4 linked regions of the Homo sapiens genome follow. The protein of the gene in region 1 interacts with the protein of each later gene in a biochemical or structural test. Each region holds a gene or a part of one and is shown in the gene's direction. Other genes may lie near its edges. The genes, in order: OCLN, CTSS, CSNK1E and PRKCH.

Region 1 (6,848 bases):
CAATGTGACCACATACCTGCGTATGCAGATCAAGAAATATATTTCCCAGTACCTCCCCACCCCCAGCACCCCCACCCTCACTTGTACTACTTTCCAGTGTTTACACTCTCTCCAGAGGGGTCCATCATGCTCACTTCTAACATCATAGAGTTTTGTCTATCTTGCACATTACATAAATGGAACCACACAGTATGTATTTTGTGTGTGATTTCTTTTGCTCAGTATAGTGTTTGTAAGGGTCCATTTGTAGTTCATTACTATTATTTTTTTTAGACGGAGTCTTGCTCTGTTGCCCAGGATGGAGTGCAGTGGCGCAGTCTCAGCTCACTGCAACTTCCGCCTCCCAGGTTCAAGCAATTCTCCTGCCTCAGCCTAGCTGGGATTGCAAGCACGCACCACCATGCCTGGCTAATTTTTGTATTTTTAGTAAAGACATGGTTTCACCACATTGGCCAGGCTGGTCTTGAACTCCCAACCTCAGGTGATCCCCCTGCCTTGGCCTCACAAAGTGCTGGGATTACATGCATGAGCCACCATGCCCGGCCATGGTTCATTAATTTTTTTTTTTTTCCTGAGACAGTGTCTCGCTCTGTCGCCCAGGCTGGAGTGCAGTGGCACAATCTCGGCTCACTGCAACCTCTGCCTCCTGGGTTCAAGCAATTCTCCTGCCTCAGCCTCCCGAGCCACTGGGATTACAGGCAAGCACCACCACACCTGGCTAATTTTCCTATTTTTAGTAGAGATGGGGTTTTACCATGTTGGCCAGGCAGGTCTCAAATTCCTGGCCTCAAGTGATCCACCTGCCTCCGCCTCCGAAAGTGCTGGGATTACAGGCGTGAGCCACCACGCCTGGCCGGTTGATTAATTTTTATTGCTTTGTAGTGTTGTATATAAAATGCAACTTTATTCATCCATTCTATTGTCAATGAACGTTTGGGTTGTTCCCAATTTTTGGCATTTAAAAATATTGCAGCTTCATACATATTTGTAAATGTTTGAGCGTAGAAGTGATGGGCATTTGTCTATCCAGCCTTAGTAGATACTGTCAAATGGCCTTCCAAAGTACTTGTACCAGTTTACATTCCCACCAACCACTACAGACTCCTGTTGCCCTATATCCTTGCTAACACTTGGCATGACAGTCATTATTGACTTAAAACATTAAAAAAAAATTATATTAAAATTTTTGTAAATTACTTATCCAGGTGCTGTGGTTACATGCCTGTAGTCCTAGCTACTAGGGAGACTGAGGCAAAAGGATCCCTTGAACCCAGGAGTTCAAAGCTGCAGGGAGCTATAATTGTACCACTTCACTCCAGCCTGGGCAATAGGATGAGACCCTTTCTAAAATAAGAAAAAAAAATTATAAATTACAGGCATCATGATTTGAAATAAGAGTTTAAAGGGTATACAGTAAAATTTCCCATCTCTCTTATCCCCTATTCAGCTTCCCTTTCCCCAGTCAAATGAGATCACCAGTCTCTTGTTTTACTTACAGTTTTAGATGATGTGTTAGCAAAAAGGCTGGTAAGTTTTCTTGGTCATTTTACAGATTTTTAGAAATGAGGGTATCCTTTGGAAAAACCCAGGTTAGAAGACAGAACTGAGCAAATAGAATCAGCTGCCTGTGTGGTTAGTGATACTGCCAGGCACCTTGCGTATTTTACTTCAATTAACACTCCCAGCAATTCTCTTGACTAAATATTCCATTTCTGTGTTCAATTCTGCCTTCCCAGCAGACCTGTTTTCATTTTGTTGAATTTATGTGATTCATTTTCTCCCTTTTTAGTCTGCAGATTACAAAAGTAAGAAGAATCATTGCAAGCAGTTAAAGAGCAAATTGTCACACATCAAGAAGATGGTTGGAGACTATGATAGACAGAAAACATAGAAGGCTGATGCCAAGTTGTTTGAGAAATTAAGTATCTGACATCTCTGCAATCTTCTCAGAAGGCAAATGACTTTGGACCATAACCCCGGAAGCCAAACCTCTGTGAGCATCACAAAGTTTTGGTTGCTTTAACATCATCAGTATTGAAGCATTTTATAAATCGCTTTTGATAATCAACTGGGCTGAACACTCCAATTAAGGATTTTATGCTTTAAACATTGGTTCTTGTATTAAGAATGAAATACTGTTTGAGGTTTTTAAGCCTTAAAGGAAGGTTCTGGTGTGAACTAAACTTTCACACCCCAGACGATGTCTTCATACCTACATGTATTTGTTTGCATAGGTGATCTCATTTAATCCTCTCAACCACCTTTCAGATAACTGTTATTTATAATCACTTTTTTCCACATAAGGAAACTGGGTTCCTGCAATGAAGTCTCTGAAGTGAAACTGCTTGTTTCCTAGCACACACTTTTGGTTAAGTCTGTTTTATGACTTCATTAATAATAAATTCCCTGGCCTTTCATATTTTAGCTACTATATATGTGATGATCTACCAGCCTCCCTATTTTTTTTCTGTTATATAAATGGTTAAAAGAGGTTTTTCTTAAATAATAAAGATCATGTAAAAGTAACAAATGTGTGAAATTTAAAGATTGTAAATATATATTTACTTTTTTAAGATCAAAGTTTAAACCCCGTGGTTAGAATTTTGTGTGTTTTTAAATACTTTTTATCTTTTTGCATGCCTTTTTTAAAAAACCAACTAGAACTTTTCATTATATCAGAATATCTGATTACATTTATAATTCAATTGTGACTTGAACTGTATCTTACAGGAATGTTCAATTTCTATACATATTTTATAAGGTATTAAACCTGGTGTTTTCTTTCCATAATAACCTGTTTGATGTTATTAGTGCTGTTAACATACAGCAATGGAAAACCACACTCAGGAGTTGTATCTGTTGTTGTTTATACTCCTTTGGATGCTGTGCTGGTTAGTCGTTTCCCATTCCTTTGGCTGTAAGAATGCTGATATGTCTGGGAATAGAATGCTATACCACGAAATACCAAATAATTTCAAATGGTGCCCTTAAATTGTATCACTTTTTTAAAAATTCAGATTCTTATTAGTAAAATTAGTTGATAGCACTGTGCTGACCAAGTTGATTGTGATCATCCCAGCTTAGACTTTTCTAAAAACTTTTTTTTAGAATAATCTATAAACTGAACTTTAGTATGCATTTCAGATATTTAGGTATATAATTTTTTTTTTTTTTTGAGACAGAGTCTCACTCTCACCCAGGCTGGAATGCAGTGGTGCTATCTTGGCTCACTGCAACCTCCACCTCCCGGGTTCAAGCAATTCTCCTGCCTCAGCCTCTCGAGTAGTTGAGACTACAGGTGCCCATCACCATGCGTGGCTAATTTTTGTATTTTTAATAGAGACGGGGTTTTACCATAGTGGCCAGGTTGGTCTTGAACTCCTGACCTTGTGGTCTGCCTGCCTCGGCCTCCCAAAGTGCTGGGATTACAGGCGTGAGCCACCATGCCTGGCCTAAGTGTGTGTGTGTGTGTGTGTGTGTATTTTTTTTTTTTTTTTTTTGAGATGGAGTTTTGCTCTTGTTGAACAGGCTGGAGTGCAATGTCGCGATCTCAGCTCACCACAACCTCCGCCTCCCAGGTTCAAACAATTCTCCTGCCTCGGCCTCCCGAGTAGCTGGGATTACAGGCATGCGCCACCACACCTGGCTAATTTTTTTTTTGTATTTTTAGTAGAGATGGGGTTTCTCCATGTTGGTCAGGCTGGTCTCGAACTCCTGACCTCAGGTGATCCATCCACCTCGGCCTCCCAAAGTGCTGGGATTAGAGGCGTGAGCCACTGTGCCCGGCCTATAATTTTTGATAGATGATTTTGAATTATTTTCCAGAGATAAAATTTTAAATGTTTCCATTATATCACTGATTTATTTCTGCAAATTGAATAAATTCTTAATTTTCTGCATGCACATAATACAAAAGGTATTTTCATAGTTTTGGATTTATACCAAATGAAAAGGATTCTCTTGATGAGCACCTTTAACTGATTTTTCTGTTAAAGTTTTAACAATTTGTTCTTGGAAGTCAGTTCGTGAAGGCAAGTTTGTCAGTATTTTCACAAAACTATTCAGCTGAATCCAGAAAGTGAAACAGCAAGAATTTGCATTGTAAAATTGTGTTATAAAATTGGACTTTGAAATTTCAAAAATAAGAAAAATTTTCATGTGTATTTATACTAAATACCGTTTTAGGAAACTAGGATCAGGGTGTTTCTGTTGGCGTTGGCATTAACTAGCTGGATGTAAATTTGAAAAGCCACTCAAGCAGCTTCCTAGTCTAGAAAGTCAGAGGTTTAGATTAGATTTCCGACATCCCTTCCATTTCTGACCTGTAGTTCTTGTCTGGAATTCTGCTTTGTTATAAACTATTGTTCTAAGGAGTTTGTTGTGATAGCACATAGTTCATTTTGTAAAGATTCCCTGCGTATAAAGTGATGCCCTACATATGTGATTTTGTATTAAAAGTATATAGGATCATTATTTTATTTTGAAAAATTTAAATACAGAAAAGTATAAAATATAAGTACCATCCGCCCAGAAATAACATGTGTTAATGTTTTGTCATATGTGCTTTATATTTTTTGAAATAAAGTGAAGTCAACTAGTATTTATAGTAAATAAGTTACATACACATAAGTACATATATGATATTTAATCCTCACAACGATCTTTTGACATGTGACCATTTCTTATTCTTCTTTTATAGACAAGGAACTAATGATATGATAGATTAACTGGCTGTTGTCACACTAGCAAGTGGCAAAACAAGGGATTAGGATCTTAGTCTCTTCAACTGTTAGATTCTATACTTCCATCCTGTGTTGACTTTGTTAATGGATTGGATAATGTGAGATCACTCTGATGTAAATAAAGTATCCTATATTAATTTCGAGTGCATTTTAAGTACTTGTAACATAAATGCTTCCTGTGAAATATCTGTAAAGACCTGAATGGGTACATGTGTGTAAAGAAGAATCAGGGCAGAAAAGTGCTTTTATCATGGCTCCGGGGACCTTAGCTTCAGTTGGTGTTGTGAGAATTCCTCACACAAGGACATTCTCCTTGCTTCAGCATCAGGATGGAAGTGTTTCTCATCTGGACTTTTTCAAAGACTCAGCTGGAGGAATCAGAATTCATAATTTCCTGGCAGCTCATGATTCTGCTACACTACACCATGCCATCTCTTGTGTGAAAGGACAGATTTGATGGAGGACTATGTCATCCCTCATGCGTTTCTTATTGTCTACATTTATTCTAATGGGAAGAAGTGAGCAAAAACACCTCAATAATTTGGGTAGTTTTTAGAAAACCTTGTTAGTAAATTAGAATAGTGCCACTTTGGCATTATGAGAAAGAAGCATGGATACATAACTAGGGTTTTGTGTATGACTACAACGAAATGCAGAATGGTGTCTCCAAAAGGTTTCCAATTGCTGCCACAAGAACTGCTTGGTATTGCCTACATGTGTTGTCCTATTTTTGCTTTGCCCTTCTGCAGTTACTTGCTGTGGGACCTTGGAGAAATTAACTTAGCCTCTCTGTACTTCAGTTTTTTGTATTTGTAAAATATATTTGTAATAATCTCATAGTTAAGAAGGTAGTTAATGTGTGACTCAGTCCTTGTCTAAAAGTAAATATGCCTAGCTACCCCCATCTTCCAAAGCCAGAAGGTGAAACTTTAACAAGTTTTCTAAAAGCAAATTGTGTTTTTTAAAAGTGCATGTGTCATCCAATCCCATATGATTGATCTGTGCTGGGTGCAGCCTTAGAATGTAAATTCTTTTGAATTCTAGGCAGAGAATGCAGGATTGGCATTCTAAATATTTGTACATGATAAACAAATGCTTCTTTAGGTTAGAGCAAATAGTTTACTTATCAAGATCACAATTGTTAGATACTGTTGTCAATTACAGAGGTTTTAGATGAGGCTTTCTGGAATGATTTAGTTTCCCTGTAAGGGAGCCTGTCTATTGGAATAGACAGGTTCACTTCTCCCAGTCTTTCAAGTTGCATGCTTTTTATATCTGATTCCACTGGCTGAGCTGATTGTGAATGTCCTAACCCTGTTGATTGTGTCTGGCCACTCATGGGCAAAGAACAGATTATCCATTCTTTATAGTTGTCTTTTAGTTTTACAAGTTGAAAAAACATCTGAGTAGGTTAGATAATTTATTCTACCACTTTGTAAATGATTAGAATATGTCAGTCATAATCATGCCAAGAGATTATGGATTTATGCATATTTTGTTTTGCTGTAGTACCATTCCTAGTTGAATCTTAACATCCATGTCTAAAATCTATACAGAACAAATATTACAGTTGGGAAAACTGTTTCAGTCTCCTCTCTTCGCAAATATGCTTTATATTTATTGGGGAGTCCTCTATCTTTTTCCTGGTTTTCCTTAAAGCCTTCCCAGGCTGATGGATAACAAACATATGCAAGAAACTTGGGGCTTGGGATTCCTCTAGGCTGTTTGTCCTAGAGGAATGCATCCCGTCTTGCAAATAGGATGGTCAATTAAGATGGAAGGAAGCAAAAGTGTGGATAGGAAGGAAGGGCACAAAAGGAAAAGTGTGGAATTTGTGTGTGAGTCCTCTAATGAGGTCAAAGGTGGGAGGGAGGCAAGCATGGAAGCTTCCTGGCACTGCGATACTAATTTCCCCTCCTCTCCCTTTTAAAATCCTGTCTTCTGGGAGGAAATGAGACTGATTATGGAGTTCCCACTAAGCCCTGCAGGGTTGGTGGAGACAACCCCATTTTACACATTAGTTCATAGACTTGGGTTGTGACTTGCTTGAGGTCACCCAGCCAGTGTGTCAGAGCCTGATTTTAAATCCAGGGCTGTTCTTTCCAC
Region 2 (5,124 bases), on another chromosome or scaffold:
ATAAATTTATTTACTCAAAAGACTATCCTTAAAATAGAGATTATGTCTTTGGATTTTTTGCTTTTGGTGTTAAAATGTATTTTCTTTTACAACATAATGGTGACAGTAAGTAGTATGGTTTTTATTTATTTTCTTTTTTTGAGACAGTCTCACTCTGTTGCCCAGGCTGGAGTGCACAGGCGCAATCTCGGCTTACTGCAACCTCTGCCTTGCCTCCCAGGTTCAAGCGATTCTCCTACCTCAGCCTCTCGAGTAGCTGGGACTACAGGCTCATGCTACCATGCCCAGCTAGTTTTTGTATTTTTAGTAGAGACGGGGTTTCACCATGTTGATCAGGCTGGTCTCGAACTCCTGACCTCAAATGATCTGCCCGTCTCTGCCTCCCAAAGTGCTGGGATTACAGGCTTGAGCCACCGTGCCCGACCAATAGTATGCTTTTTAAAAAAGATGACCATACAGCCGGGCGTGGTGGCTCACACCTGTAATCCCAACTCTTTGGGAGCCTGAGGCGGGTAGATCACTTGAGGTCAGGAGTTGGAGACCAGCCTGACCAACATGGAGAAACCCCATCTCTACTAAAAATACAAAATTAGCCGTCGTGGTGGCACATGCCTGCAGTCCTAGCTACTTGGGAGGCTGAGGCAGGAGAATCACTTGAACCCAGGAGATGGAGGCTGCGGTGAGCTGAGATTGCACCATTGCACTCCAGTCTGGGCAACAAGAGCGAAACTTCACCTCCAAAAAAAAAAAAAAGATGTCCATACATGCTAATTTTAAAATTGATAACTGTATATCTATCTGTAAAAACTTTTTGAACTCCTCTAAGTCCATTAAATCAAAAAGTGAAACACTGATCTACTCGAACCCTAATCCGACCCATGATTTTTCTCTGCAACATCTCTAACAAGTAGCCTCTGCTGCAGAGTAGGTAAGGAATACAGGTGCATGCCACCATGCCTGGCTAATTAAAAAAAAATTTTTTTTGTAGAATCAGGGACTTGCTATTTTGCCCAGGCTGCTCTCAAACTCTGGCCTCAAACAATCCTCCCACTTCAGCCTCTCAAAGCACTTGGATTACAAGTGTGAGCCACCATGCCTGGCTCATTTTTCAATAGCTTTAATTATGAGAAAGTCAGCTCCACTTCTAGATCAAAAAGCTCTTTCAGAGCTGCATTTTTGTTGTTTGCTTTAGAATTCCCTGCCCTATACCTTTTTCATAGTAGTCACTCAAAAATATTTCTTAATTGACATTCTCTAGAGGAATTTAAGTTTGATAGAAAATCATTACACATGATACTGTTATCAAAAAATTTAGAGATAAAGGCTTATAAAGGATACTAATACTCTTTCTTTAGAGAAGGCATATTTGCAAAGTAGGAGGATTAAAGGACTGGGATGGATCTTACTATAGTTTTCCTTAGGTATTAAGTCTATTCATCAATATAGCACTAAAGCTTTCCAAACCATTATTTTGAGTTACCTGAAATCCCTGGAGAAATTATTACCTTATTTCATTCTAATTTTGTTTTACGGCCTTTCATATGTAATCACTTATAGGAGAAAAACAATGAGATAAAAAGTTGATAACATGGTTTGATTGTACGCATTTGTAATTTTGTATTATTTCTTTTTCTAAAGCTGGGGCCACAACTTTGGTGAAGAAGGATATATTCGGATGGCAAGAAATAAAGGAAATCATTGTGGGATTGCTAGCTTTCCCTCTTACCCAGAAATCTAGAGGATCTCTCCTTTTTATAACAAATCAAGAAATATGAAGCACTTTCTCTTAACTTAATTTTTCCTGCTGTATCCAGAAGAAATAATTGTGTCATGATTAATGTGTATTTACTGTACTAATTAGAAAATATAGTTTGAGGCCGGGCACGGTGGCTCACGCCTGTAATCCCAGTACTTGGGAGGCCAAGGCAGGCATATCAACTTGAGGCCAGGAGTTAAAGAGCAGCCTGGCTAACATGGTGAAACCCCATCTCTACTAAAAATACAAAAAATTAGCCGAGCACGGTGGTGCATGCCTGTAATCCCAGCTACTTGGGAGGCTGAGGCACGAGATTCCTTGAACCCAAGAGGTTGAGGCTATGTTGAGCTGAGATCACACCACTGTACTCCAGCCTGGATGACAGAGTGGAGACTCTGTTTCAAAAAAACAGAAAAGAAAATATAGTTTGATTCTTCATTTTTTTAAATTTGCAAATCTCAGGATAAAGTTTGCTAAGTAAATTAGTAATGTACTATAGATATAACTGTACAAAAATTGTTCAACCTAAAACAATCTGTAATTGCTTATTGTTTTATTGTATACTCTTTGTCTTTTTAAGACCCCTAATAGCCTTTTGTAACTTGATGGCTTAAAAATACTTAATAAATCTGCCATTTCAAATTTCTATCATTGCCACATACCATTCTTATTCCTAGGCAACTATTAATAATCTATCCTGAGAATATTAATTGTGGTATTCTGGTGATGGGGTTTAGCAACTTTGATGGAAGAAAATATTAGGCTATAAATGTCCTAAGGACTCAGATTGTATCTTTGTACAGAAGAGGATTCAAAACGCCACGTGTAGTGGCTCATGCCTGTAATCCCAACACTTTGGGAGGCTGAAGTAGGAGGATCGTCTTGAGCCCAGGAGTTCAAGACCAGCCTGGACAACATAGTGAGACCTTGTCTCCACAAAAATAAAAAAGAAACTATCCAGGAGTGGTGGTGTGTGCCTGTGGTCCCTGCTATGCAGATGTCTAAGACAGGAGGATCACAAGAGCCCAGGAGGTTGAGAATGCAGTGAGCTTGTAATTGCACCACTGCACTCCAGCCTGGGTGACAGAGCAAGACCCTGTCTTAAAAAAAGAGGATTCAACACATATTTTTATATTATGTTAAAGTAAAGAAATGCATAAAAGACAAGCACTTTGGAAGAATTATTTTAATGATCAACAATTTAATGTATTAGTCCAAATTATTTTTACGTAGTCATCAACAATTTGACCAGGGCCTTTATTTGGCAAATAACTGAGCCAACCAGAATAAAATAACCAATACTCCACTGCTCATATTTTTATCTAATTCAGATGGATCTTCCTTACAACTGCTCTAGATTAGTAGATGCATCTAAGCAGGCAGCAGGAACTTTAAATTTTTTAAGTTCATGTCTATGACATGAACAATGTGTGGGATAATGTCATTAATATATCCTAAATTAACCTAAACGTATTTCACTAACTCTGGCTCCTTCTCCATAAAGCACATTTTAAGGAACAAGAATTGCTAAATATAAAAACATAAATAATACCATAATACATGGCTATCATCAAAAGTGTATAGAATATTATAGTTTAAAAGTATTTAGTTGATTACTTTTCAGTTTTGTTTTGTTTTTTGAGACGGAGTCTCACTCTGTTGCCCAGGCTGGAGTGCAGTGGCACCATCTCAGTTCACTGCAACTTCTGCCTCCCGAGTTCAAGCGATTCTCCTGCCTCAGCCTCCCGAGTAGCTGGAATTATAGGCGTGCACCACCACGCCCAGCTAATTTTTGTATTTTTAGTAAAGACAGGGTTTTGCCACATTAGCCAGGCTGGTCTCAAACTCCTGACCTCAGGTGATCCACCCACCCCAGCCTCCCAAAGTGCTAAGATTACAGGCGTGAGCCACTGAGCCCAGCCTACTTTTCAGTTTTTAACATAATTTTTGTTTTATCCACAACTTTTCAAGTATTGAAAGTAGAATAAAAACATGGGTTCTTAGTCTTTAGCTATCTGTTAAAGCCTATGAATGCCTTCTTAAAATCATGTTTTTAAATGCATAAAATATATAGGATTACAAAGGAATCTAATTATATCGAAATACAGTTATTAAAATGTTAAAAGATAAGTTTGTTATATATTAATATGCATGCTTCTTTATAAATGCATTAAATAAGAGTTAATAGCTATCCTAAATTTGAAATAGTGATAAGCATAATGAAAATAGATGCAAAAAACTAATGTGATATGAAAATATCTGGGTTTTTCTTTTGATGATGAAGTATTGCTAATATTACCGTGGTTTATGAACTATGTTCAGAATTGAAGAAAATCCTAACTTTCAGTTAGAGGTTAGTGACGGGGTTCAGGACACCCTACACAAAATACAGCACTTTGACATATTGAATATTTTAAGCTGAAGGCATTTGAGGAAATTGCAGAAGCAGGAAGGTGACTCTGACCTTCTGCCTGCTGTTCTCCCCAGAAGCAGCCATAAAACCTGGGAAGGATTTTCTGACCTTCCCCTGAAGTAGATCATAAGACTGTCATGTAAGAGGTGCTCTCCTGGCACCCAGAGAAAAGGAGCATCCTTACCTCCAAAAGCACAGGGACACAAAGAGGAATCTAAACAAACAGGCCTCTCAGTTTCCCCCAGTTTATTACATTTAGCTTGTTCACACTTTGCCCTATGACATTTCTACATCACTGGCTGCTCTTCATCAAACCTACTATAAAAAACATTCAAGTTCAACTGTTTCTTTGGGCCTTTATTTCCTTATGGAGCCCCTCGTGTCGTGTAAAACTTATATTAAATAAATGTGCATGCTTTTCTCTTGCTAATCTCTCTTTTGTTATAGAGATCTCAGCCCTAAACCTAGGATGGATAGAAGGAAACATATGTTCTCCCCTACATTAGTAAAAATAAAAATGGAATTTTTTACCCATACAAATTCATAAATTCCCTGAATTCTATCCAAGGAGACTTTGAGAGTTGTGGCTCTCAAGTAAAGAATGCCTGAACTGCTCTCCCTCCCCCTCCCCCTCCCCCTCCCCCTCTCCCCACGGTCTCCCTCTCATGCGGAGCCGAAGCTGGACTGTACTGCTGCCATCTCGGCTCACTGCAACCTCCCTGCCTGATTCTCCTGCCTCAGCCTGACCAGTGCCTGCGATTGCAGCCTCGCGCCACCACGCCTGACTGGTTTTGGTGGAGACGGGGTTTCGCTGTGTTGGCCGGGCGGGTCTCCAGCCCCTAACCACGAGTGATCCGCCAACCTCGGCCTCCCAAGGTGCGGGGATTGCAGACGGAGTCTCGTTCACTCAGTGCTCAATGGTGCCCAGGCTGGAGTGCAGTGGCGTGATCTCGGC
Region 3 (7,033 bases), on another chromosome or scaffold:
CTGGGATTACAGGCGCTCCCACGGGAGCACCTTGGCTAATTTTTGTATTTTTAGTAGAGATGGGGTTTCATCATGGTGGTCAGGCTGGTCTGGAACTCCTTGCCTGGTGATCCGCCTGCCTCAGCCTCCCAAAATGCTGGCACCTGGCCTTCTCCATATACTTTAAATCATCTCTAGATCACTTATAATACCTAATACAATGTAAATGCTATGTAAATAGTTATTGTACTGTATTTTTAATTTTTATATTATTTACCTATTTATTTTTGAGACATGGTCTTGCTCTGTCACCCAGGCTGGAGTGTGGTGGTGTGATCATAGCTCACCGCAACCTTGACTTACTAGGTTCAAGCAGTCCTCCTGCCTCAGCCTCCCAGGTAGCTGGGACCACAGGCACGTGCTACCACGCCTGGCTAATATTTGTATTTTTTGTAGAGATAGGGTCTCACTATGTTGCTTAGGCTGGTCTCGAACCGCTGGACTCAAGTAATCCTCCTCAGCCTCCCAAAGTGGTAGTACTACAGTTGTGCATCACTGCACCCAACCTATTTCTTATTGTTGTGTTGTTATTTTTTATTTTCTCCCCCCACGTATTTTTGATCCATGGTTGAATCGGCAGATGCGGAACCCACAGCAGATGCTGATACGAAGGTATCAGCTGATAAGAAGATGCTGTGTTCTAATTTTTAATTTTTTTTTTTTTTTTTTTGAGATGGAGTCTTGCTCTGTCGCCAGGCTGGAGTGCAGTGGCACAATCTCGGCTCACTGCAACCTCTGCCTCCTGGGTTCAAGCAATTCTCCTGCCTCAGCCTGCCGAGTAGCTGGGATTACAGGCGTGCGCCACTACGCCCAGCTAATTTTTGTACTTTTAATGGAGATGGGGTTTCACCATGTTGGCCAGGATGGTCTTGATCTCTTGACCTTGTGATCCGCCTGCCTCGGCCTCTCAAAGTGCTGGGATTACAGGCGTGAGCCACCGCGCCCGGCCTGTGTTCTAAAATTGATTGTGGTAATGGCTGCGCAAGCTTGTGAATATACTAAAAACGGTGAGTCGCACACTTTGAGTGACTCAATTGGAGAGTTATCTGAATTACATCTCAATAAAGGTGTTGAAAGAAATTGCAACTTATAACACAGTATCCAGTGAAGCGTCCCCCACCCCTTCCTCCCTGACCCACTTAGCCCTGTACAGTCATGTTTCTGTTCAGTGTTTCTTTATGTAGCTAGAGCCAAACACAGATACTTAGTTCCCCACCTTTTTAAAGAAAACTGAAATGAGAGTGTGGAATATACACTGTTCTGTGCTTTGCTTTTTCACTTCCTGTATCTTGGAGATCTTTCCACTTGTGTGCAGAGAGAGCTTCCTGGTTCTTTTTCCATTGTATTCTGTTTTATGGATGGGCTATTCTTTATTTAATCAGCCCCCTCAGGAGGGACATTTGGGTTGTTTCCAAGCTTCTGCTGTTCCAAACAGCCTGCAGCCGACAGCCTTGTCCCCGCCTTGTTTTGCACCGTGCTAGGATGTCAGGTAAACTCCCAGAAGCGGGGTTGCTGGTCAGGGCTGAGTAGCGTCAAATCCCCCTCCAGTGGCGACTCAGCAGTTGACGCCTCCACCACCTGGGAGGAGTGCTCAGCGCCCCCACAGTCTTGCCGACAGACAGGTGTGTTATCTCGTAAGACTTTTGACAATCCTAGGTGAAACATGGTCTTTCACGATCATATTAATTTGCATTTCTCTTACAAGGAGGTTGGGCATCTTTCCCTATGAGTAAGGCTTTTCTATTAATGATTTCTTTCTCTGTGAAGTGTGTGTTTCAAATCCTTTGGCCTATTTTCTGCTGAGTCTTTTTCTGACTGATTTGTAGGAGCTCATTACATATTAGCTCTTTGCCTGTGATAAGAATTGCAAGTGAGTATGTCTCTTAGGACTTTATTTCCGGTGTTTTTGCCATGCAGAAGGGATTCTTTTTTTTTTGGAGAGGAAGGAGCTTTTTTTTTTTTTTTTTAAATGGCTTTAGGATTTTGAATCAGGGATAAAAATAAAAGCTTTGCCTAACCCCAAGGCTATAAGGCAATTCTCCCTTCTTCTAACATTTCATTGTTATTTCTTATTAAACGTTGAGTGGATGCAAAGAATACGTATAGAATACCTGCATGGCCTAAGGTGTCCCTCCCTGGGAACCACCGTCTGACATTTAATCTTTTTCCTTTCTTTCGTGTTTAAATCTGTATTGTCCAGTCTTGTTGCCTGTTTTGATATGGAAACAAGTAGAACTGTGCTTGCACTCTTCTTTTTTTTTTTTTTTTTTTTTTTTTTGAGCTGGAGTTTCACTCCGTCACCCAGGCTAGCGTGCAATGGCACAATCTCGGCTCACTGCAACCTCCGCCTCCTGGGTTCAAGTGATTCTCCTGCCTCAGCCTCCCAAGTAGCTGGGATTACAGATGCCTGCCACTGCGCCCGGCTAATTTTTGTATTTTTGGTACAGACAGGGTTTCACCACCTTGGCTGGGCTGGTCTCGGACTCCTGACCTTGTGATCCACCCGCCTCAGCCTCCCAAAGTATTGGGATTACGGGCGTGAGCCACTGTGCCTGGCCTCGGGTAGAATGTTTTCAAGGTGCACTCGTGTCGTAGCGTGTATCGGTACTTTATTCCTCTTTATTGCTGAATAATATTCCGCCGCATGGAGGCACTGCATTCCATTCATCCTTGCATCTGTGACAGATGTTTGTTGTTTCCACCCTCTGGCTGCTGTGAGGAGTGCACCCCTGGGACCAGGGTCATTGTGTGAAGCAGGCATCCTTTCCTCTTCACTGCCGCCTGGGATTCCCTGGTGACTGCGCCACTGTTCCTGTTCTTCTGCTGCTGAGCACTTGGGCTGTTTGCTCCTGTGTCCATCCTTGTCCTGTCCCCCTGGTGCACACGTGTTTCTGAAGGATGTACACTCAGGAGTGGGGTTGCTTGGGCGAGCGTTTGTTTATGTTCAGCTTCACCCAAGAGGTGCACAGGGGCTGTGCCAACTCACACCCACACCTTTATTTCTTATATACAAACTTTTCCTCTACTTGAGATTTCTCCTGGTTGTGGTGTGAGCCATGGTGTCTTTTCTCAGGTGGCCAGCCGGTTGTTCAGGGACATTATTAATGAACAGTCTCATCTTTTCCTCTGATGTGAGGTCCTGCCTTTCTCCTGTCTTGAACTCCTCCTGAGGCTGTGTCCCTGGGGGTTGTTCTGGCCTGTTTGTGTCCTGTTGCGACACTGTCCTACTCCTCCTGCTGGGCTCGCTGCTGGCCCCAGGAAGGAGACACCCTGTCGCCCAGCCTAGCCCCAGCCCTTCATCTCATCCACCCATACAGCCAGGGAAACTGAGGCAAGGTACACTTTGGGCTTGGTCTTTCTTGTGACTTCTTGAGTTGGGCAGTGGGCCCAGGCAGAGAGCGGGGCCTTGGTGTGTGTGAGGGTATTTTCTTAGAGCCCCTTGAGAAGCCAGGAGTGGACTGGGGGAGACGGGGAGGTGCAGGCAGGACCTCTGACCTATGCTGGAGGCCAGCAGAGCCGGGGTTGATCTCAAGGCCGCCATTTACAGGTCAGGTGACCTTGAGCTGGGTCTCTAGCTGGGTCTCTGTTTTCTCATCTCTACAAGGGGGTTGAGAATCGAATGAGACACTGGATTAGAATGTGCAGGGCTGCCTCTGAAGGCATCAGCATTGACTGAGGGGTTGCTGCGGCTGTCCCATCCTCATCCTGTAGGCCAGGGTGGTCCTGGCTTGTTCTGGTGTGTTCGGCAGCCCAGCCCCATTGGGCCTCTTCTGCACGTGCCACCATCTCAACCCGACAGACCTCACTGCCTGAATTTGCTCTAGGACTCAGCCCCCTCCCTTAGGTGGTCTGTGAGCCTTTTGCATACCTGACCCTTGCCCCACTCACATCGGGCCTTCTTGTCGCCCCAACCTGTGGCCCTGGGTAGCCCTTGTGTGTCACCTCTGTCCCTCACAGCGCTGACCTTCTTTCCCCTCAGGAACCCTTTGCCGGGGCTCCTTTGCCCCCTTCCCAGCCTCCCCCAAGAGCTCCTCAAGGGCAGATGGCCCCGGGCCCGGCACACGCCAGATCTCAGAAATGCTTAGTGGGGCGCCTGGGACTGCCTGGCCTTTGAGGGTGACCCTGGTCCCTTGCCTCCCTGCCCCGGGCAGGTGCCAACATCGCCTCTGGTGAGGAAGTCGCCATCAAGCTGGAGTGTGTGAAGACAAAGCACCCCCAGCTGCACATCGAGAGCAAGTTCTACAAGATGATGCAGGGTGGCGGTGAGCGCAGGGTGGGCGGCGGCGGGCGCCGGGTGGGTGGCGGTGGGCAGCCATGAGCACAGGGTGGGCCGGGCGTGGCTGGCTGCCTGCCTCTGACCCCTGACAGAGGCCCTCTGCTTGACCCCCAGTGGGGATCCCGTCCATCAAGTGGTGCGGAGCTGAGGGCGACTACAACGTGATGGTCATGGAGCTGCTGGGGCCTAGCCTCGAGGACCTGTTCAACTTCTGTTCCCGCAAATTCAGCCTCAAGACGGTGCTGCTCTTGGCCGACCAGATGGTGAGTCCCCGTCCCCTCCATCCCCAGCCAGATGCCTGTGGGCCCAGGATACCAGCCCTGCCTCCTGCCCCCAGAGGATGCCAGAGGATGGGCCTGGGCCAGGGGACCTTGTCCACTGGCTATAGAATTGTAGGTGTTTATTTATTTTTTGAGGCGGAGTCTCACTCTGTCGCCCAGGCTGGAGCGCAGTGGTGCGATCTCAGCTCGTTGCAACATCCGCCTCCCAGGTTCACGCGATTCTCCTGCCTCAGCCTCATGAGTAGCTGGGATTACAGGCACCTGCCACCACGCTGGGCTAATTTTTGTATTTTTAGTAGAGACAGAGTTTTACCAAGTGATCCGCCCATCTTAGCCTCTCAAAGTGCTGGGATTACAGGCGTGAGCCACCGTGCCCAGCCAAGTTGTTTATTTAAAATGTGATTTCAGGCCCAACTCCAGACCTGCCGAGTCAGGGCCTGGGACTCTGCCTGGGGTAGTTTTATTTATTTATTTCAAAAATATCATTTAATTGTAAGAAATAGAGATGGGGGTCTCACTGTGTTGACCAGGCTGGTCTCAAACTCCTGGCCTTGAGCAGTCTTCCCATCTTGGCCTCCCAAGATGGGAATTAACACGGGATCACAGGCATGATCCACCACGTCTGGCCTGCCCTGGGTAATGTAAAGCCTGCGGTCGGTCACACAGACCTGGTCCTGTTCCAGACCAGTGACCGTAGGTGAACGCCGAACCTCTCTGAGCCTCAGTGGCCTCATGTGAGAGTCTCTCCTTTGTTGGTTGTTGAGGGGATTAGGTGAGATACCATTCAGCGCCTTGCCAAAACAGGCCCCTCTAACAGGCTGTTGTTAAGTACTAAGCCCTTCATCAGCATAGGGAGGAAAGCTTCTTAAAAATACAAAACTGTAGAATTTTGAACTTGGAATGGAATGTGGAGATCTCGTACAGGGGTTTTAATCTTGGTCTGCAAAAGCCCTGCGATGTAGGCTGAAGGTGTGTGAGCAGAGGGTCGCCAGAGCCCCTCATGGTGTGAAACTCAAGAAAGGTGCAGGAGATGTTGAGCTGTGCTGAACCTGGGGCCAGAGCCAGAGGCCACGGCATGTGGATGGATATTAGTTTGAGTTTTAAAAACTCGACTGAAAAGGTGGCTCAAGTCTGTAATCCCAGCACTTTGGGAGGCCGAGGCAGGCGGATCTCCTGAGATCGGGAGTTTGAGACCAGTCTGACCATCATGGTGAAACGCCATCTCTGCTAAAAATACAAAAAATTAGCCAGGTGTGGTGGCGCGTGCCTATAGTCCCAGCTATTCGGGAGGCTGAGGCAGGAAAATCACTTGAACCCTGAAGGCAGAAGTTGCAGTGAGCCGAGATTTTGCCACTGCACTCCAGCCTGGGCAACAGACCGAGACTCCATCTCAAAAAAAAAAATATCAAAGGAAAGAGGGCCATGTGCCTGTCTGAGTTTGGCATCCTTCGGAAGCCCTGTCTTTTGTGTTCTGCCTCTGTCACCTCTTCCTGGTCTAGGCTTCCCCCATGTTCCCTGCCTGCCCCTCGCCCACATCTGTTGCCTCTCTGGCTCCCTAAGTCCTGTGAGTGTGGGGCCGGGCAGGCAAGCCTTCCATGGGGAACCAGTTGCCTTTCTAGCAGACTCTTCATTTCTGGATCTTCCCATTAGCTTTCCTGCAATACTCTCTTTCTCTGTCTCACAGCCAACTTGGTGAACTCCCCCTTTAGAGTTCATCCTGATGTCACATTTTCCAGGAGGCCTTCTCTGGCCTGCCCCTTAGTTATCCTTCATGGTCGAAGGCAGGCCTTTCTCCCTCTGCCTTTCCACCTCTGTGGCCCCAGCCCCTGCCTGGCCCAGAGTGCTAGGCAAGGGCCCCTCTGTTGAACAAATGGCCCCCCTCCTCCCCAGATCAGCCGCATCGAGTATATCCACTCCAAGAACTTCATCCACCGGGACGTCAAGCCCGACAACTTCCTCATGGGGCTGGGGAAGAAGGGCAACCTGGTCTACATCATCGACTTCGGCCTGGCCAAGAAGTACCGGGACGCCCGCACCCACCAGCACATTCCCTACCGGGAAAACAAGAACCTGACCGGCACGGCCCGCTACGCTTCCATCAACACGCACCTGGGCATTGGTGAGGGAGCCAGGCCTGGAGCAGTGTGCACCCGGGGCCACTGGCTGGGGCCCAGCTCTCTGGAGCCCTCTCACCCCCTACCCTGATGGAGGCCCCCAGGCTCTTTTCTAGTGAGAAAGTCCCCACCCCGTCTGCCCCCAAGCTCGTGCTTATTCCGTGTCCTTGCACAGTCGGGTCTTCCCCTTCGTAAGCCAAGCTGTGTGTGCCGGGCGCCTTCCCTGGCCCTGCTTCCTCCTCCGCCCTGTTGGTGCAGGCTGGAAGATACAGGCTCAGAGGTTTAACATGGGTTGCTTAAGGTCATGCAGCTTAGCTAATGCC
Region 4 (7,033 bases), on another chromosome or scaffold:
AATCTTGTTAAAAAAATTTGGAAATATATGGAATGCATGCTTTTTTAAAAAAGTATCCTTTATAGGTTCAAAAATGCTTTAAAAAAATAGAGATGGGGTCTTGCTACCTTGTTGACCAGGCTGGTCTTGAACTTGTGGCCTCAAGCCATCCTCCCACTTCAACCTCCCAAAGTGCTGGGATTACAGGTGTGAGCCACTGCATCTGGCCCAAAGGTGCTTTTGAAGTTCAGGATTAAAGAAATACTTATTTATCTTTAGTATTTTAAATTGACATGTAGTTTATTCAGAGAGTTAAATGTGGAATAATTGAATTTACTCCATAATAAATTTATGGTTGCAAGTGGAACTACAGATTACTGACTTAAAAAAAAACTATTGAAGTTGCAGGTTCAAAAAACCCCCAAAACCTAGTGACTTAGTTTTTGCTAGATCCAGAGAAGCTCTTAGCTGTAGGTTATGGATGAGAGGATTCAATATGGTTAAGATCTCAATTCTTCCCAAAGTATTCAATAGGTTCAGTATAATCTCAGTCAAAATCTAAGTTTGTTGTAGAAATTGACAGACTGACTTTAAAATTTATATGGAAATGTAAAGTACTGAGACCAGTCTAAGAATAGTTTTGAAAAAGAACAAGTTGGGGGACTTAGAGTATCTGATTTCAAGGCTAACTGTAACATGACCGTAATCAAGATAATGTGATATTGGAATAAAGAGAGTCATACAGATCAGTGGAATGAATAGAAGAGAGTCTAGGAATAGATCCACACATATATGACCCACTGATTTCTGATAAAGCTGCCAAGAAGGCAACTCAGTGGGGGAAATGATAGTCTTTTCAACTAATGGTGCTTGAACAACTGGATAGCCACATACAGTAATATGAGCCTTGACACTTACCTCACATCCTACAAAGACATTAATTCAAAATGGATTATAGACCTAAATGTAAGAGTTTAACTGTGAAACTTCTATAAGAAAACAAAATTGTAGTGACCTTGGGTTCAGCAAAAAATTTTTAGATAGCGTACAAAAGGCACCAACTATAAAAAAATCAGTAAGTTGGACTTTATCAAAATGAAAAACTATTGCTTCCCAGAGAATGTTTAAGAAAATAAAAACCCAAGCCACAAATGGGGGAAAATAACTGCAATACGTAAATGAAAGATGTGTAACATGAATATATAAAAGAACTCTAACAGCACAATAATAATGAGAAAAATACCTAATTTAAAATCCAACAAATGACTTGTAACTTGTCAAATATTTCAATAGGCACTCACCTTCATGCCAAATAGCACATTAAAAGATGCTCAAAATCATGAGTCATTAAGGAAATGCAAATTAAAACCAAAATGAGATCTCAGTATGTTCCCACTAGAAAGGTTAAAATTAATAAGACTGACCATACCAAGTGTTGGTGAGGAAGTGGAGCACCTGGAACTCTCATATGCTATGGTGAGGAATGTAAAATGGTAAATCATGTTGGAAAATAGTTTGGCAGTTTCTTAAACTATCAAACATATGCCTACTATATAACTTACTGTTTAGTATTTACTAAAAGAAATGAAATCATTCATACAAAAGCTTGTCCACGAGTGTTCATAGCATCTTTATTTGTAATAACCCCCAAAGTGGAAACAACTCAAATGTCAACAGATGAATGTTTAAACAATTGTGGTTTATCCATACAATGGAATATTACTCAGCAATAAAAAAGATGAACTATTACACATGTAACAACAGGAATGAATCTCAGAATAATTATGCTGAGTGAAAGAAACTAGACAAAAAAGTACGGTTTCATTTATGCAAAATTCTAGAAATGAAAAGGAGTCTATAGTGACAGGAAGCAGATCAGTGGGTGCCTAAAAATGGAGAGTGGAGGTAAGGGAGGTGGATTACAAAGGAGGCAGAAACTTTTAGGGGAGATGAATATTTGTGTTATTCTGATTGTGGCAATGATTTCACAGTTATATACATATGTCAAAGCTTATTAAATAGTTCACTTTAAGTATGTGCATGTTACTATATGACAATTATACCTGAATAAAGCTGTGGGGAAAAAAACCAATCAGCGCTTATCCATATTTTACTGAAGGTGTTAAGTAAGATGCTAGTAAATGACAGAATTTCAGCTGAGCCAAGTCTGACTCTTGAAAACTACATTTCCTCTTTAGTGCAGAAAATATTTATGAGAATGGGAGCGTAGAAAAAATGAAATCACAATAAAACAAATTAGTTTCTGATTTTTGGACATGGTCTCATTTTCTAAATTATCACTGTCAGTTTTTTTTCTGCTGCTTCTAGAACATGTTTATTTTGCATAATTTCTCTGGCTTCCAAAATCTGAAGAATTGCCTCTGTTTAAACTCTATTTTCTTCTTTCGTGTACTTGCTCTTGATTTGCTGACCTTCTAAATGGGGACCAGCATCTAATGCTTAATGCAGAGTGCTGGGGACATGGGGAGGCAGGAGGAGCTGGAGGCTGCGTCATGGAAAGACCTTGGCGCCCCCTCAGGAAGGAAGGACTGGCTTGGCAGGATCCCAGGCTGTTTTCCTGGTTCAGCCCTCCCGAAGACATTGTGTTCTCTGCAGCCCTGGAGGGCCTCTTTCTCTCAATTTCTCAGTGAGGTACCTGTTTTGTAATCAGTCCTGTCAGGTGAAGCAGCCATGTTACTACTGGACAATCATGGATTATCTTTTCCCTTCCTTCCTGGATCCAGGTGTCTGAATTTATACCACCAAAATTCTTCCAGATTTTCTATCTAGTGGTTCATTCTCTTTTGTACTTTGTAGTGCCGTTGTTTATTCTCATGATTGATTTTTTTCTGAGCCAATTGGAAGGAATGTCTAACACTGACTGATCAACCCACAGTGTTTAAGAGGAAAAATATATTTTAGAATCTTGAGGGAGTTTTATTTCAGTGTATGTGAATTGTATTGGCTATGTAGCGTCTTCATTTTCATTGTAAGAAGAATTTTGCTACAGTGGGACCGGCTGCTTCTCATCACAAACAGGTTGTGGCTCAGATATTTTCCCCTTTGGAGAGCATTTTCCTGGTCATATTATTATCTTGTTGTCTTTCGTTGCACTCATTGCTCTCTGAGATCATTTTGTTAATGAATTTGCTTATTATACTTTCCTCCTTTAGATTACAAATGGCTTGAGAGCAGGGACCCACCTCTCTTATTCACTGTCCTAACCCTGGGACAATGTCTCATATGTAGTAAACATTAAATATTTGTTAAATGAAATTTTATGTGATTGGGGGACAAGTAAAGTGTAAGTACTTTGGGAGCATCTTTCCATCTTTCTAAAAGAAAGAAATGAAAATAGTTGAGGAGTTACTGGATGAACAGTATTCCTCTGTTAAATCAATCAATGACATACCAATATGTGCTTGAAAGACTGGGCCTGGGCCGGGCGCGGTGGCTCACGCCTGTAATCCCAGCACTTTGGGAGGCCGAGGCGGGTGGATCATGAGGTCAGGAGATCGAGACCATCCTGGCTAACAAGGTGAAACCCCGTCTCTACTAAAAATACAAAAAATTAGCCGGGCGCGGTGGCGGGCGCCTGTAGTCCCAGCTACTCGGGAGGCTGAGGCAGGAGAATGGCGTGAACCCGGGAAGCGGAGCTTGCAGTGAGCCGAGATTGCGCCACTGCGGTCCGCAGTCCGGCCTGGGCAACAGAGCGAGACTCCGTCTCAAAAAAAAAAAAAAAAAAAAAAAAAGAAAGACTGGGCCTGACTGCTATATTCTTTGAATATGGTAATGGATTGAAAACCTTGTGTATGGAAAATTCCCTGCTCTTACGTCATTTTAAAAGACTATGATTTTAAAACTTGTAATACGTTATAACGTTTTTCACTTATAATTTTCACGCCCAAAATGTTAAAGTCAGGGCAGAAGCAAGACATCAGCATTTAAAAGGTTGTGCCTCAGCCTTGGAGAGGAATGAGGTTGGTGGGTGGAACGTGAATCATTTTATCTTATGCAACTCTTAGTGAAGTTTTGGTATCTAGTAAGTGTTAAGAATGGTGATTAGTGGTGATGGTAAAAGTGTGGTGCATTTTTATGAGAAGAGTAGCATTTGCGTAGAATAATAGAGGTGCCTGGGATTTTTGGTAGTCCTTTTTTATTTAATAAAGCAACTGGGGCCGCGTGCTATGGCTTGCGTCTGTAATCCCAGCACTTTGGGAGGCCAAGGCAATAGGATCCCTTGGGCCCAGGAGTTTGAGACCAGCCTAAGTAAAATAGTGAGACCCCATCTCCACAAAAAAATAAAATTAGCCAGGCATGGTAGCACATGCCTCTAGTCCCAGCTACTTGGGAAGCTGAGGTGGGAGGATCACTTGAGCCTGGGAGGTTGAGGCTGCAGTGAGCCATGATCATGTCACTGTACTCTAGCTTAAATGACAGAGCAAAACCCTGTCTCAAAAAAAAAAAAAAGCTGAAAAAACAGTCAACTAGATTGTGTTCCCCTTTTGTGTTGACTTCTTAGCTCCACTTTATTAGAATGTGATAAAAATGAGACCTAAGTGGAAACAATCCCTGTCCATTGTTTTCCACTCTTATCATTACTGTATCCAAAATAGTCTTTCTCAATTGCCAAACCAATAGTCATTTCTTTATTTAAAACTCCTCCTCTGTGGTTCTCCACTGCTCTTAGATAAACTCCTGAGTCTTTTTTTTTTTTTTTTTTTTGAGACAGAATCTCTCTCTGTTGCCCAGGCTGGAGTACAGTGGCACGATCTCGGCTCACTTCAACCTCCGCCTCCCAGGTTCAAGCGATTCTCCTGCCTCAGCCTCTCAGTAGCTGGGATTACAGGCACACACCACCACGCCTGGCTAATTTTTATATTTTTGGTAGAGACAGGGTTTTGCCATGTTGGCCAGGCTGGTCTCAAACTCCTGACTTCAGGTGATCCGCCCGCCTTAGCCTCCCAAAGTGCTGGGATGCAGGCATGAGTCACTGCACCCAGCCAAAGTCCAGAGTCTTTAAAATGGTATAGGATGTTCTCCATGATCTGTACCCTGTGTTCCTCTTGAGCCTTTTCTCTTACATTTCCCCAAATTACAATGAGCATCTTTCAGTTCCTCAAAAGGAGGAACACTTCGCTTTGCTAATTCTTCCTTGTGCTTCAGGTCTCATTATGGGCATTAATTACCCAGACAACTGTCCCTGATGTGCCAGTCTGGGTTTGGTCCTCCTCCTAGTGTTCCCTCAGTATCCTGAGATCTCTTTTGCCGCTGTCTCCTCCAACCTGAAAGAACGGACGTATGAATGGATTGGCCTCTAATGGAAGCGTGTGACACTGGTCACAGGGAGTTCAGGGTGTAGTTGTTTGAATGATTGACTAAGATTCATCCGCTTGGCTCTTGTAGTAGTGACTCTGACAGACTATTACATGTTTCTATTTGAAATGCCAAGCCCTAGGTGAGCATCCAGCCACCAATGAGCATGTACTAAGTACCAGGCATTGTGCTCTATCCTGTAAAGTCAAGTGGACAGGACACACATGACCCATTCTTTCGTAGGGCTTGTAATTCCAAGGGGGAGGGAGATTGGGATAAAAAGCAAACAAAAGCAACTAGGGAATTACAGAAGTACTTACAGGCAGGTAAGCCCCTGGTTTGGGGAGGTGGGGAACATCTTCCTGGAGGAAAAACAAAGAGCTGACTTTTAAGGACCCAGCCTAGAGAGCCACAGCCTGCTTCAGTTAAATGACTGTGAACAGTCTTTGCTCAAAAGAAGAAAAGGAACTTCTGACCTGATAATGTTTCCCAGAGGGACATCGCAGATGCCCTTTTGAAAGGTAAATGTTCCTGACCCACAGAAATGTTTCCATCTTTGGAAAGTTTGGGAGGGAACTGTTTCCATGCTTGTGAACAGATGACCTGCAAAAGAACTTTTGACTCCACAAAGGCAGAAAGTAGGAACACTATATTTGAACCATCAAATACCTTAAGTTTTGTATAGATCATAAAATAATCATAGATGTTGAAGCAGGATGATCATCTAATTCAGAACAACAACAAAAAGCCTGATAGCTCTTAGGCCTGCAGACAGCCTGTAGGTCTATTCATTTGGCACAGATGTTTTTAACATTGAAACTGAAGGCATTTAGTGCTGTGGTGCTCCAGTTTGCCACAGACCCCTCCACTCCCTGTTATGAAACCAACTCTCTTGACTCATTACTTGCTTGGACCTGGGACATTTTAAATTTTGTGACACTATAGCTCAAGCCTTTGTTTTCTGAATGTGGGAACCAAAGTTCCAGCCAAATCATTACTGTTGCCCTAACAGGGGTGTCCAATCTTTTGGCTTCCCTGGGCCACGTTGGAAGAAGAATTGTTTTGGGTCACACATAAAATACGCTAACACTAACGATAGCTGATGAGCTCAAAAAAAATCCTCAAAAAAATCTCATAATGTTTTAAGAAAGTTTACGAATCTGTGTTGGGCTGCATTCAAAGCTGTCCTGAGCTGCATGCAGCCTATGGGCTGTGGGTTGAACAAGCTTGCCCTAACTCATGAGAAGTGTAATATACATACATTTAATATGTATTAATATCTATCTAATCTATATCTACAAAAATACAGATATACTTACTTAGATTTATTTAGATATGTAATAATTTATTAATTTATAAAATGCATTAGTTTAGATATATATTTACTTAGATTTTTACTTACATAAAGATTTGTGTCCTAGTATTTCAGAGAAAGCTAGCTTACTAGTAAATATATGGGGAGTTAACTTTTACTGCAAATTAGTATTATATTAACTATCCAATTTAAAAAGAAAGCAAACTCTGCCAGGCTGGTATGGTGGTGTGCACCTGTAGTCCCGTGTACTGGGGAGGCTGAGGCAGGAGGATTGCTTGAGCCTAGGAGTTCAAGGCTGCAGTGAGAGCTATGATCGAGCTGCTGCTCCTCAGCCTGGGCAACAGAGTGAGACTTTGTCTCAAAAAAAGAAACAACAACAACAACAAAAAAACCCCTCTTTTTATTTCGTTATACAACTCCCAG

Evidence for each region.
Region 2: of the proteins of OCLN (region 1) and CTSS, one has a biochemical effect on the other in vitro, tested with the Homo sapiens proteins (one study listed by IntAct).
Region 3: the proteins of OCLN (region 1) and CSNK1E form a complex in vitro, tested with the Homo sapiens proteins (one study listed by BioGRID and IntAct).
Region 4: the proteins of OCLN (region 1) and PRKCH form a complex in vitro, tested with the Homo sapiens proteins (one study listed by IntAct).

The regions. Positions count from the first base shown.
Region 1 is NC_000005.10:69,551,781-69,558,628, forward strand, and holds the end of OCLN (occludin), read left to right. Parts: intron 1-1,789; coding exon 1,790-1,891; 3' UTR 1,892-6,324; downstream 6,325-6,848. UniProt on the Homo sapiens protein: May play a role in the formation and regulation of the tight junction (TJ) paracellular permeability barrier.
Region 2 is NC_000001.11:150,729,660-150,734,783, reverse strand, and holds the end of CTSS (cathepsin S isoform 1 preproprotein), read left to right. Parts: intron 1-1,638; coding exon 1,639-1,738; 3' UTR 1,739-4,596; downstream 4,597-5,124. UniProt on the Homo sapiens protein: Thiol protease. Key protease responsible for the removal of the invariant chain from MHC class II molecules and MHC class II antigen presentation. The bond-specificity of this proteinase is in part similar to the specificities of cathepsin L.
Region 3 is NC_000022.11:38,300,406-38,307,438, reverse strand, and holds part of CSNK1E (casein kinase I), read left to right. Parts: intron 1-4,190; coding exon 4,191-4,301; intron 4,302-4,429; coding exon 4,430-4,578; intron 4,579-6,486; coding exon 6,487-6,715; intron 6,716-7,033. Other genes in the region: TPTEP2-CSNK1E (casein kinase I), read left to right, coding at 4,191-4,301, 4,430-4,578, 6,487-6,715.
Region 4 is NC_000014.9:61,324,551-61,331,583, forward strand, and holds part of PRKCH (protein kinase C eta type), read left to right. Parts: intron 1-7,033. UniProt on the Homo sapiens protein: Calcium-independent, phospholipid- and diacylglycerol (DAG)-dependent serine/threonine-protein kinase that is involved in the regulation of cell differentiation in keratinocytes and pre-B cell receptor, mediates regulation of epithelial tight junction integrity and foam cell formation, and is required for glioblastoma proliferation and apoptosis prevention in MCF-7 cells.